Linked DNA regions of Homo sapiens: region 1 is linked to region 2. The links come from fine-mapping of genetic effects on gene expression. A gene starts in region 2. The other region holds a variant in brackets. All regions are shown on one strand. Distances are between the middles of the regions.

What was found. PIP is the estimated chance that this variant, and not a neighbour inherited with it, causes the effect.
Region 1: its variant is the best candidate, but not a certain one, in a credible set for the expression of ENKD1 in whole blood (TOPMed, PIP 0.66).

The regions. Positions count from the first base shown.
Region 1 is chr16:67,707,474-67,712,841 of GRCh38, forward strand. All of the region lies in intron 1 of GFOD2 (Gfo/Idh/MocA-like oxidoreductase domain containing 2), which reads right to left. Among named protein-coding and RNA genes, the nearest start is that of GFOD2, 9.2 kb to the right of the region's middle. RefSeq lists enhancers at 1,857-2,635, 2,636-3,413. The variant C/T (reference allele first, on the strand shown) is at 2,915.
Region 2 is chr16:67,663,494-67,668,861 of GRCh38, forward strand. ENKD1 (enkurin domain containing 1) reads right to left here and starts at 3,257. Exons shown (of 7, transcript NM_032140.3): 1 at 2,865-3,257; 2 at 2,578-2,772; 3 at 1,503-1,675; 4 at 444-569; 5 at 164-327; 6 at 1-63. The coding sequence starts at 2,949. It overlaps C16orf86 (chromosome 16 open reading frame 86), which reads left to right and starts at 3,321. Exons shown (of 4, transcript NM_001012984.3): 1 at 3,321-3,579; 2 at 3,803-4,032; 3 at 4,385-4,605; 4 at 4,707-5,262. The coding sequence starts at 3,478. The coding sequence ends at 5,107. RefSeq lists silencers at 2,829-3,098, 3,439-3,488, 3,509-3,558, 3,639-3,688.

The sequences.
Region 1 (5,368 bases), 44 kb after region 2:
AGTTTCTTATAGTTAAACATATATCAACCCAATCACAGCAACTCCACTTATAGATATTTATCTAAGAAAATAAAAACATAAGTCCACAAAAAAAATTATACAAATGTTCACAGCAGCCTTATTCATAATGGCCCCACACTAGAAACAAATGTTCACATCATAAATTATGATGTCACACAATGGAATACAGTAAAACAGTAAAAAGGAATTAACTATTAATGAATTTTTTTCTTTTTAAAAATTTTATTAATTTTTTTGTAGAGATGTGAGTCTCACTGTGTTGCCCAGGCTGGTCTCAACCTGCTGGCCTCAAGTGATCCCCCTGCCTCAGTCTTCTAAAGTGCTGGGATTACAATGAACCACCTCGCCTAGCCTGTATGAATCTTAAAAACATTATGTAGAGTGAAAGATGGCAGGCCCACACACAGAAGACCCATACTGTAGAATTCCACTTTTTTGAAATTCAGGAATAAGCCAGCCTTATTTATAGCAACACTAGTCAGAAGGCGGCAGTGGCGGTGGTGGCTGAGGCGGAGGGAATCGAACAGAAAGAGGCACAAGGCTACATTCTAGAGTGATGGAAATGTTCTGTATCTTGTTTGGTGCTTGGGTTACATGGTGGTACAACTGTCAAAACTCATCAAATTGAATATTTAAGATCTGTGTTTTTAATTGTATGTAAATTATACCTTAATTTTTAATCACCTTAAGTAGTTGTGCCCAAGGACATAGAACAACCTGTTCACACCTTGCAAATTCAGTTCTGTAATCAAACTAAATGGATATGTGTGAATTAGAAGTCTCTTTCCTTTAAAACAAAACAAAAAAACCTGTAAGCTTACTTTTGGGGACATCATCGGTACAGGCTGGGGCCAAGAGAATAAGTTTTCTGAGAAAGAAACTTCAAGCTAAGGCCCAGTAGGCTGGTGAATCCCAGCACTTGCTGAGCGTATCTGAAGATGGCACTTTTCCCTGGGCAGTGTGTCACACTGGGTGAGTGGCTGAGCTCCAGATGTTAGGAAGTCCTCACCACTCATGAACAACTCATACTGAGGAAGGGAGGGTTCAAAAGGGGTTCTCCCGTATCATTTCTGGCAAGCAAATTTAATGATGGCTATTCATAGAGCATTGGTATGTATCAGTTTGCAGTTGTAGCTATACAGGTTGGGCAATAAGACTTGGCACTGAAAGAGTGGCAAGCCCTCACTTAGTGTCAGCCTCCACTGTGCCTCAAGGGCCACTCACCATGAGACTAGCCCCAGATCCAGCCCCACACCTTCCAGAGCACTGCATCCTGAGAGGCACCTCCACAGACTTGATGCACACCTCTGTCCCCTCAGGCACATTCCAAAAGGCCAGTGTCAAGACCCATACTGTAGAATTCCCTTTATTTGAAATGCAAATAAGACTCATTTGATAATTTGATTTTTCTGTGAATTCTTTTCAGTAATTTCATCCTAATATAAAGCACTGGGGCCAGAGGTGAGGGTCACGGCCCTAGTTATGAAGTGAGACAGATCCTCAACCTAACTTAAAACAAACTGTAGGGCTGAGAGCAGTGGCTCACACCTGTAATCCCAGGACTTTGGGAGGCCGAGGCAAGTGGATCACTTGAGCCCAAGAGTTTGAGACCAGCCTGGGCAACATGGCAAAACTCCTTCTCCACAAAAAATACAAAAATTAGCTAGGCATGGTGGCACAAACCTGTAGTCCCAGCTACTCAGGAGAGGAGACTGGGGTGGGAGGATCTCTTGAGCCCAGTAGGTCAAGGCTGCAGTGGGCTGTGATTGCACCACTGTACTCCAGCCTGGGCAACAGAGCCTATCTCAAAAGAAAAAAAAAAAAAAGATTGGGACATTAGCTAGGCTGATTAGGTGTTTTAGGTGCTTGTGTATAAAATGACACCTGTAATTTATGTAGATTGATTAATAAATACTTATTAAGCACAGACTATGAGCCAGGCCTCAGCAAAGTGCAGGATACTTCAGTAAGCCAAACAGATATAGTTTCTGCTTGCAAAGAGTGTACAGTCTAGGAGGAGAGATAAGATAATCAAATAATCACATAAATATGTAATTATGATTTGAGATTAAATGCTATAAAGGAAAAGAATGGTGCTATGAGAGACTCAGCAGGATATAAATTAGCCTTATTATTATTATAATGGAGTCTCACTCTGTCACCAGGCTGGAGTGCAGTGGCATGATCTCAGCTCACTGCAACCTCTGCCTCCTGGGTTCAAGCATTCCTCCCACTTCAGCCCCCTGAGTAGCTAGGACCACAGGCACATGCCACCACACCCAGCTATTTTTTTTGTATTTTTGGTAGAGACGGGGTTTCCCATATTGCCCAGGCTGGTCTTGAGGCTGGTATTCAACTCTTGTCCTCAAGTGATCCGCCCGTCTCAGCCTCCCAAAGTGTTGGGATTACGGGCGTGAGCCACCGTGCCCAGCCAAATTAGCCTTATGTTTATCTATTTTTTATTTTTTGGGGACAGAGTGTCACTCTGTCACCCAGGCTGGAGTGCAGTGGTGCACTCTTGGCTCACCACAACCTCTGTTTCCTGGGTGCAAATGATTCTCCTGCCTCAGCCTCCCGAGTACCTGGGATACAACTGTGAGCCACGACACCCAGCTAATTTTTTTTGTATTTTTATTTATTATTTTTTTAGAGACAGGGTCTTGCTCTGTTGGTCAGGCCGGAGTGCAGTGGGGCGATCATAGCTTACTGTAGCCTCGAACTCCTGGGCTCAAATGATCCTCCTGCCTAGGCCTCCCAAAGTGCTGGGATTATAGGCATGAGCCACCACGCCAGCCCTGTATTTTTAGTAGAAACCGGGTTTCACCATGTTGGCCGGGCTGGTCTCAAACTCCTCACCTCAAGTGATCTGCCCGCCTTGGCCTCCCAAAGTTAG[C/T]CTTTGTTTTTTGAGACGAAGTGGAGAAGTGCAGTGGTGCGATCTCAGCTCACCGCAAGCTCCGCCTCCCGGGTTCACGCCATTCTCCTGCCTCAGCCTCCCGAGTAGCTGGACTACAGGCGCCTGCTACCATGCCCGGCTAATTTTTTGTTTTTTAGTAGAGACGGGGTTTCACCGTGTTAGCCAGGATGGTCTCGATCTCCTGACCTCGTGATCCACCCACCTCAGCCTCCCAAAGTGCTGGGATTACAGGCATAAGCCACCGCGCCCGGCCAGTTAGCCTTATTTTTAAAAGTGTTCAATGACAGATTTATAATGCACTTTGAGTTCCACGTGAGAAAGGTTTCACACTCTGAGGCTCAATTACGATAAAAACACTGACATTGTGAGTCATTTTCTATCCACTGACCCCTACCCTGCTCCTTGACTATCAATCCCCACTTGCTGTGCTCTATTCAGAGTTGAGCTCAGTCTCTCTCCCCAACTGCAAGACTCATTGCAGAGGTACCTATACCTGCCGCCATGGTCCTGAATAAAGTCTTCATCACCATGAAAAAAACCCAAACATTGACATTGGTTGTGCAGTAAAAGGCACAGCAGCCCAATGTCATTAAAAACCCAATTTGTGATTAACAGACACTCCCCTTCCCCAGAGCAGTAACCAGACCCAAAAGCATTTCTTCAGAATGAAGACTCCAAAAGAGGTAGGAAGGAAAAGTACAATGTTCAGAACTTCAAACTGCAATTATGCAACTCTCTCATGATGCTCTGTGTTCAGGCATCATGGCTGAAAACCCTGGATTATTGGTTGTAAATCATACTACAAATAACCAAGCTTCAGCTATCTCATCTTTGTCAAATACAATTAAATCCAGTGGTCAATTCTCACCTTCATCCCACTTTGACCTATCAGCAGCATCTGACATGGCAGGTTCCAACCTCCTTGAAACACTCTTCACCCGACTTCCACAACACAAATTTCTTCTGATTTTCCTCTTACCTCTCTGACCACTTCTCGGTTCCTTCTGCTCATTTCTCCTGATGGTGACTGTAGTAACCATGGCTCAGTCCCCAGTCTATTTCTCTTTTCTATCTATACTCACTCCCTTGGTGGTTCCATTCAGTGTCATGGCTTTTAAATGTTATCTATTCCCTGATGACTCCCAAAGTTATCAGCCAGGTCCTCTTTAAGCTCCAGACGGGTGCAAACAACCGCCTATTAACATCTCTACTTGGATGTTTAATAGGCATCTCACACTTAAAATGTCCAGAACTAAACTCCTGATGTTTCTCCCCACCAAACATACTCTTCCCACAATGCCTTCATCTCAGAAACTGGTAACACAAACTTTTCAAATGCTCAAGTTAAAACCTTGGAGTTATCCTTGAGTCTTCTTTTTCTCTCACACTTCACATCTGATCCATTAACAAGTCTTGCTGGCTCTCTACCTTCAAAATATACCCTGCATCCAAGAACCTCTATTGTGCAGACATCCACGTGGCTTTCTCTCTCTCTCTCACGTTTCCTTCAGGTCTCTACTTCCATGTTGGCTTTTCAGAAACAGGTGTATTCTTCCATTGTTTGTCTCTCCCCACCATCCCTGCTAGAATGTATCCTCCTTGAAGACAACAAATTTTTTGTCTGTTTTGTTCATTGCTATATCCCTAGTGCCTAAAACAAGGTCTGACATGTAGTTGGTGCTAAATATTTGCTGAAAGAATGAAAGATTTCAGACCTAGTTCCTGCACAGTCAATAAACTAAGACATATATACTGAGCCCATCAAAACCATACTATAGAAAACCATATATACTGAGCTCACCAAAACCATCAGTAGGCTCTTGCAATGTTTAAAAATGTAATAAAGAGCTCCCTCTCCCTCTCCCTCTCCCCCTCCCCCTCCCCCTCCCCCTCTCCCTCTCCCTCCACGGTCTCCCTCTGATGCCGAGCCAAGGCTGGACGGTACTGCTGCCATCTCGGCTCACTGCAACCTCCCTGCCTGATTCTCCTGCCTCAGCCTGCCGAGTGCCTGCGATTGCAGGCGCGCACCGCCACGCCTGACTGGTTTTCGTTTTTTTTTTGGTGGAGACGGGGTTTCGCTGTGTTGGCCGGGCTGGTCTCCAGCTCCTAGCCGCGAGTGATCCGCCAGCCTCGGCCTCCCGAGGTGCCGGGATTGCAGATGGAGTCTCGTTCACTCAGTGCTCAATGGTGCCCAGGCTGGAGTGCAGTGGCGTGATCTCGGCTCGCTGCAACCACCTCCCAGCCGCCTGCCTTGGCCTCCCGGAGAGCCGAGATTGCAGCCTCTGCCCGGCCGCCACCCCGTCTGGGAAGTGAGGAGCGTCTCTGCTTGGCCACCCATCGTCTGGGATGTGAGGAGCCCCTCTGCCTGGCTGCCCAGTCTGGAAAGTGAGGAGCGTCTCTGCCCGGCCGCCATCCCATCTGGGAAGCGAGGAG
Region 2 (5,368 bases):
TCCGGCTGGCTCTGCTTGCGGGCCTCGGCCTCCCGCCGCCACAGGTCCCTGCGCTCCAACAAGCTGTGGGTACACAGGCTCAGAGTTGATGACCCGAGGGCAGAGGTTGGTTCCCACCCTCCACAGGTGTCCTTCACCCTGAGTGTCGGGCAGTGAGACCTACTAATGTGGCACATGGCCCTTCTGCGTGGCATTGTAGTGCTCCTGGGCCTGCCGCTGCTGCTCTAGCACTTGTGCCAGGACCTGCAGTGAGCAGGAATGCCTCCGGGGGGCTCTCTTGGCAGCTCGTGCATTGTGACGAATGAAGTCCACCCCCAGGCCTGGCTCCTGCAGGACACAGCAAGCGTGGGTGGGGGCAGACAGCATTATGTTGTGTCCCTGAACACCCCCCCCACACCAGGAGCCCTGCCCAACCACCATCTAGCCCCCATACATCCTCTCACCTTAGCTTCGGGACCTGGTGGGGTTGGCTGGGGACTAGATACATGGGGTGGTGGGAGGCCAGGGCCGCAGCGGGAGTGCGCCCGCAGGAAGTGGGCAGACTCTGTCCCAGAGGCAGGGCCAGGCTCCTGGAGGGCAGGGCACAGCAGAGAGAGCAGGCAGGCTGAGGTCTGGGGCTCAAGCTGCAAGACCCTGGCCATCTTGGCCCTTCTGACCTTTGCATCCATGTCCCTCGGGCCCTCTTCCCTCTTCAAGGGACACTTGTCCTCATCAGCACACAAATGTGTGAGTATGTCAGATTTTTAAGAAAACAACAAACCATCTCTCCTTCCACCTCAGTACTGGCCCAGCTACCACTCTCTTTCCTCCTTCCTAGCCAAGCTTCCTGGCTCTAGCCCTGCAAGGCTCCTAACAGCTGGCCTCCAAGTCCTCAAATCCAGGCGGTCAATTCCTTGGTCTCGTTGTCCTCAACCTGATCGTCAATAACTCCTAGGTCTCACTCCTGAGATCCAGGCCTGAATTTCCATCTGCTTCCTGGACACACTCCCACCCCCTGGGAACCCCACAGATGCTTCAGCTACAACACATTTGTGTGACCTTGCCTTTCCTCTCACTCCTGCTCCTCCTACTGAGTCCCTGAGACAGAGCCCCCCACCATACCCCTGCCCTTCCCACTGTCCTCAGAAATAAGGGCTGAAAAGTGGCTTTTGTGGCCCCTGACGTGGGTCCAGCTGACTTCTTGGCCTAACTTCACGCCCTTCTTTCCTCACAGTGAACTGTACCTAGCATCTCCACTGCTGCGTGCCCTGTGGTCTGTGAGGTTCCATCTTTTGGGAATGTTCTCTTCTGCTGTCCCTTTGACTAATTGCTACTTGCCCTCAGGATCAGCCCCACCATCACTACTTCTGAGAAGCCCCCCAGCCTCGCCCTGCAGCAGAGCCAGGGTCTCTTAGTCCTCTGTTACCTCTGTGACTTCCCTCCCACCCCAGAACTCAGATCAGGGTACAGTTGCCTGTTGGCCAACAAAATGGATAATACTTCTGGCTCCCTGAAGCAGGTACCTGGAGCTGGGCCTTGACCCGGGACTCCACCTTGTCGTACTTGGGTGAGCGCCACAGAGCTTTCAGGGGCCTGGGCTGGCCCTGCTCCCGGCTGCGCTCCTGTTCTCTGAAGCGCTTCTGAATCTCCCTGATCCGCCTCAGGTTCTCCTTCTCATGGTCCTTAGGGTCCTTCCCTGGAGAAAAGATGCCCCCAGGTTCTGCCCTACATGGGGCCCACACAGTCCAACTTCCACTAGTTCACACACAGGCCTGCCCCCTGCCTCCTACAGAAAGAGCTCCCTGACCTCTCCAACTACCTTAGACCCTACACACACTCTCCCTCATCACCGTGTTCCCTTCCTCATGTAGTAAGTATCACAGGATGATTTTCTCCATTATTATTATTATTATTATTATTTGAGACAGGGTCTCACTCTGTCACCCAGGCTGGAGTACAGTGGCATGATCATAGCTCACTGTAGCCTCAACCTCCCCGGCTACCTCAGCCTGCCGAGTAGCTGGGATTACAGACACACTCCACCATGCCAGCCTGATTTTTGTATTTTTTGTAGAGATGGGGTTTCACCATGTTGGCCAGGCTGGTCTTCAACTCCTGGACTCAAGTGATCTGCCCGCCTGGGCCTCCCAAAGTGCTGGGATTCCAGGAGTGAGCCACTGCGCCCAGGTGATTTCCTCCATTATTATAGTGAAGTACACCATTGAAGTACACCATAGATCATCTCATATATGACATTCATCTCTTGATCTTTGTATCCCACCTTGACTCAGTGATGGCTCATGCTTATCTTCAGCCCTGTGTTCTAGCATCTATATGGCCTGGCACACAGTAGGCACTCAACAAACAAATTTAATGGGTAACAAATGCATAAAGCAGAGCTAGGGCTTCGTGGGAACTACCTCATTCAGTTCACCTCCTTCGAGAAGGTAGCATATTTCTCCCCCTTTTATAGTTGGGGAAACTGAGACTCAAGAGATGCAAAGCCTGGGCCCACGTCAGGGTGGAAAGAGCAGCTGCTTTTGATCTCTTTCCACCCCGCACTGCCTCTCTGTCCCTTCTTCCATTCCTGGGACTTACTCTTGAGAGAGGCCCCAGGACCTAGGGAGATCCCCTCGAGTTGCAACAGCACGTCCCCGACGCCGCGCTGGCCGCGCTCCAGGATCTCTCCGGCACCGGGACCGATGCAGGGGCCACGGGGAGCGGTGGTGTCCAGGGCCCGGTCGGAAGTCAGCAAGTCCAGCTTCAGCGCGTTTCCCTCGAGGCGCCCTTGAGCTGTGGGGCGGAGCCGGGCGGAGTCCGGGGCTCAGAGGTGGAGCCAGGGCCGACCCCTGAGCCTCGCACCACCGCCAAGCCCCCGGACTCACCCGAGGTCGGCCGCCTGTAGTTGTCAGGACAGAGCGTCGGGTCTGGGGGGATGGGCCCCGAGATGCGGGACGGGCCCTCGCACATGCCGCCGGCGCCGCCCAGCAACGGTGCCCCGAGGCCTGCAGGGCTGTTTACCTCCCTCCCCGGGCCCCCTTCCCCAACCCCGGGCCCCCTCCCTCGCCCGGCACCCTGACCCTGGCGTGCCCGCCACTCCCGGGCCCCTGCCGGTCCCCGCCTGGGCCCCGGCCTCGCTCGCCACCTCCGCGACCTCTGCTCCCAGCCCACTTCTCGGTCCCGCTCGCGGCCTCTCCCCCGCGGCACTCGGGCAGGGGCTCACTCGAGAGGTTTTGCCGCCAGCCGCTGCCACCCGACGGGACTTGTTGTTGCCGGGCAACCGTGGCTTCCGTCCCCGGGGTCAGGGCCCACTGACCCCGGCGCAAAGCGTCCTGGGGCTTGTAGTTTCGGCCGAGGGTGGGCTCCGCGGTCGCCGGTTTCTCTTCCCAGCTCTGCCCTCGCTTGCTGGCCGGTCTCCGGGGTCAGCGCGGGGCCACCATCCAGCCCCTTGGGGCCCGCCCCAAGCAGCTGTCGAGGACGCACTCAGCCTGCGCAGCCATGGCCTCGGCAGGGGCGGAGAGGCGGCCGGGGGTCCAGGAGGCGACGGTCGTGGGGCAGGGACAGCTCACGGAGGAGCCCGGCAGCGCTCAGACCTCCGAGGTGACCGTCAGGCTGTTTAACCTTCAAACACAGGGCCGCAGCGCTCTGAGAGGTGGAACTGAGCGCCCCGACCCGCTAACTGCCAGGCTGGGCCCTCCAGGCGGGGAGGGGCACAGGCTGGTGTCCTTATTCCCGTTTCGGTGTCTAACGTTAGGTGTTCAGTGACGGATCCCTATGTCCTTTGCCCGGCCATGGTGACCGATGGCCTGTGTGTCATCTCTAGTGTCCAGTGGCGGGAGACCAGTTCCTGGTGCCTGCCCATGAGGCCCGCGGAACCCAGAGTGAAGACCAGCGCCCAGCAGGCGCAGCTTCGGAGTCGGAGCTCCAGGAGGAAGGACCCAAGCTGGGGGAGGAGCGGCCCAAGCCGCATGCCGGGGCGCTAGAGGAGAGAGGCCCCAGGCCCGTGGTCTCCATTGTGAGGCCCCGTCATGGTCCAAAGAGAAAGCCTGTCAAGTGAGGGGGCTCTCGGGGGGAAGGAGCTGCAGCCCCGGGGTTGGGGCACACACCACAGTAGGATTCCTAAATCCTGCACTCCTGCAGGGAGGATTCTCGTCCCCAGCCACTACCATCACTCTCCTCCCGTTCCTCAAGAGCCCCCGTGTAGGGAGCAGCAGGAGAGTGGGAGCTTCAGGGCTTGTAGGGGCCTGGGCTCACTGGCCTCTAAGCCTCTTGGGCCTGGGGTCTCATTGACCAGGAACGGGACAGGCGTCGAGCCCTGGGGCTGTGGGCAGGCTGGGCTATTCCCTGGGCCAGGGAATGGGAGCCAGGGCTGGAGCCTGGCTCAAGTCTCTTGTCCCTGGCTCAGGTCTCTCAGCCTCCCGGGCCTTCGTGCCCATCTTAAGGCTGAAGCTGAGCTGCCACCCAAGCTGCCGCTGCAGGAGGAGGAGCCAGAGGACAGCCAGAGTGAGCCCTCACCATCTGCCAAACAGCACAAAAAAGCCAAGAAGCGCAAGAGCCTGGGGGCTCCCGTGCTCCACGCTGTGGCCAGCATGGTGTCTGCACCCTTAGAGACATTGAGGCTGGAGCGTGAGTGGCAGTCCCTGGACTGTTCCTTCTCCCCCTGCCTGTGGGGCCCGACATGGCACAACCTGGCGCTCTAGCCTCTGCCCTGCCCTGGGTCTTTGCAGGAAAGGCCCAGCGCCTGCGGCCGCTGTACCAGTACGTCAACTATTGCAACCCTGAGCTGAACCAGGCAGGGAAGGGGGACGGGGAGGCTGAGGTGGAGGCAGAGGCAGAGCTGGCCCCGGTTCCCGAGGAGGGAGGTGTGGAGCAACTGCAGGCCTTGCTGCCCTTGGCAGGTGAGCTGGGCCCAGGCCTCGCTTTGCCCTGTCCCAGTCCACTAGTGACCCCCACCCATGCCCTGGCTCCCCTCGGAGAGGAGGCTGGAGAGGAGCCTGGGGGCTTGCCCAGCTTGGGGGTGAGTGACCACAAGGCCGAGGTGGATAAGTCAACCCAGGTGGACATCGACAAGATGCTGAGTGTCTGCACTGCTCCACTTGTCCCCCCGCTCTCTCCTCAGTACAAGTGACTGTCCCGCCCCACTGGTGGCTCCCCTCCTTCCACGCCTGAATTTGGCTTCAGGCTTCCTGTGGGCCTAGGCCCTCTGGTGGCGGGGGCAAATTTGGCACCTGCCCCCACTTGGGACTTTGGTCTTGCTGAAAATAAATATTTTTCTTTTTCAAAGACTTTGTGATTCCCCAGATAGGTTGCCTGAAATGGGTAAGAGGATGGAGGACTCAACAGTGCAGGGTTTGAGGCCTGAATGGTCATCTGCATCACCTGAGACTTT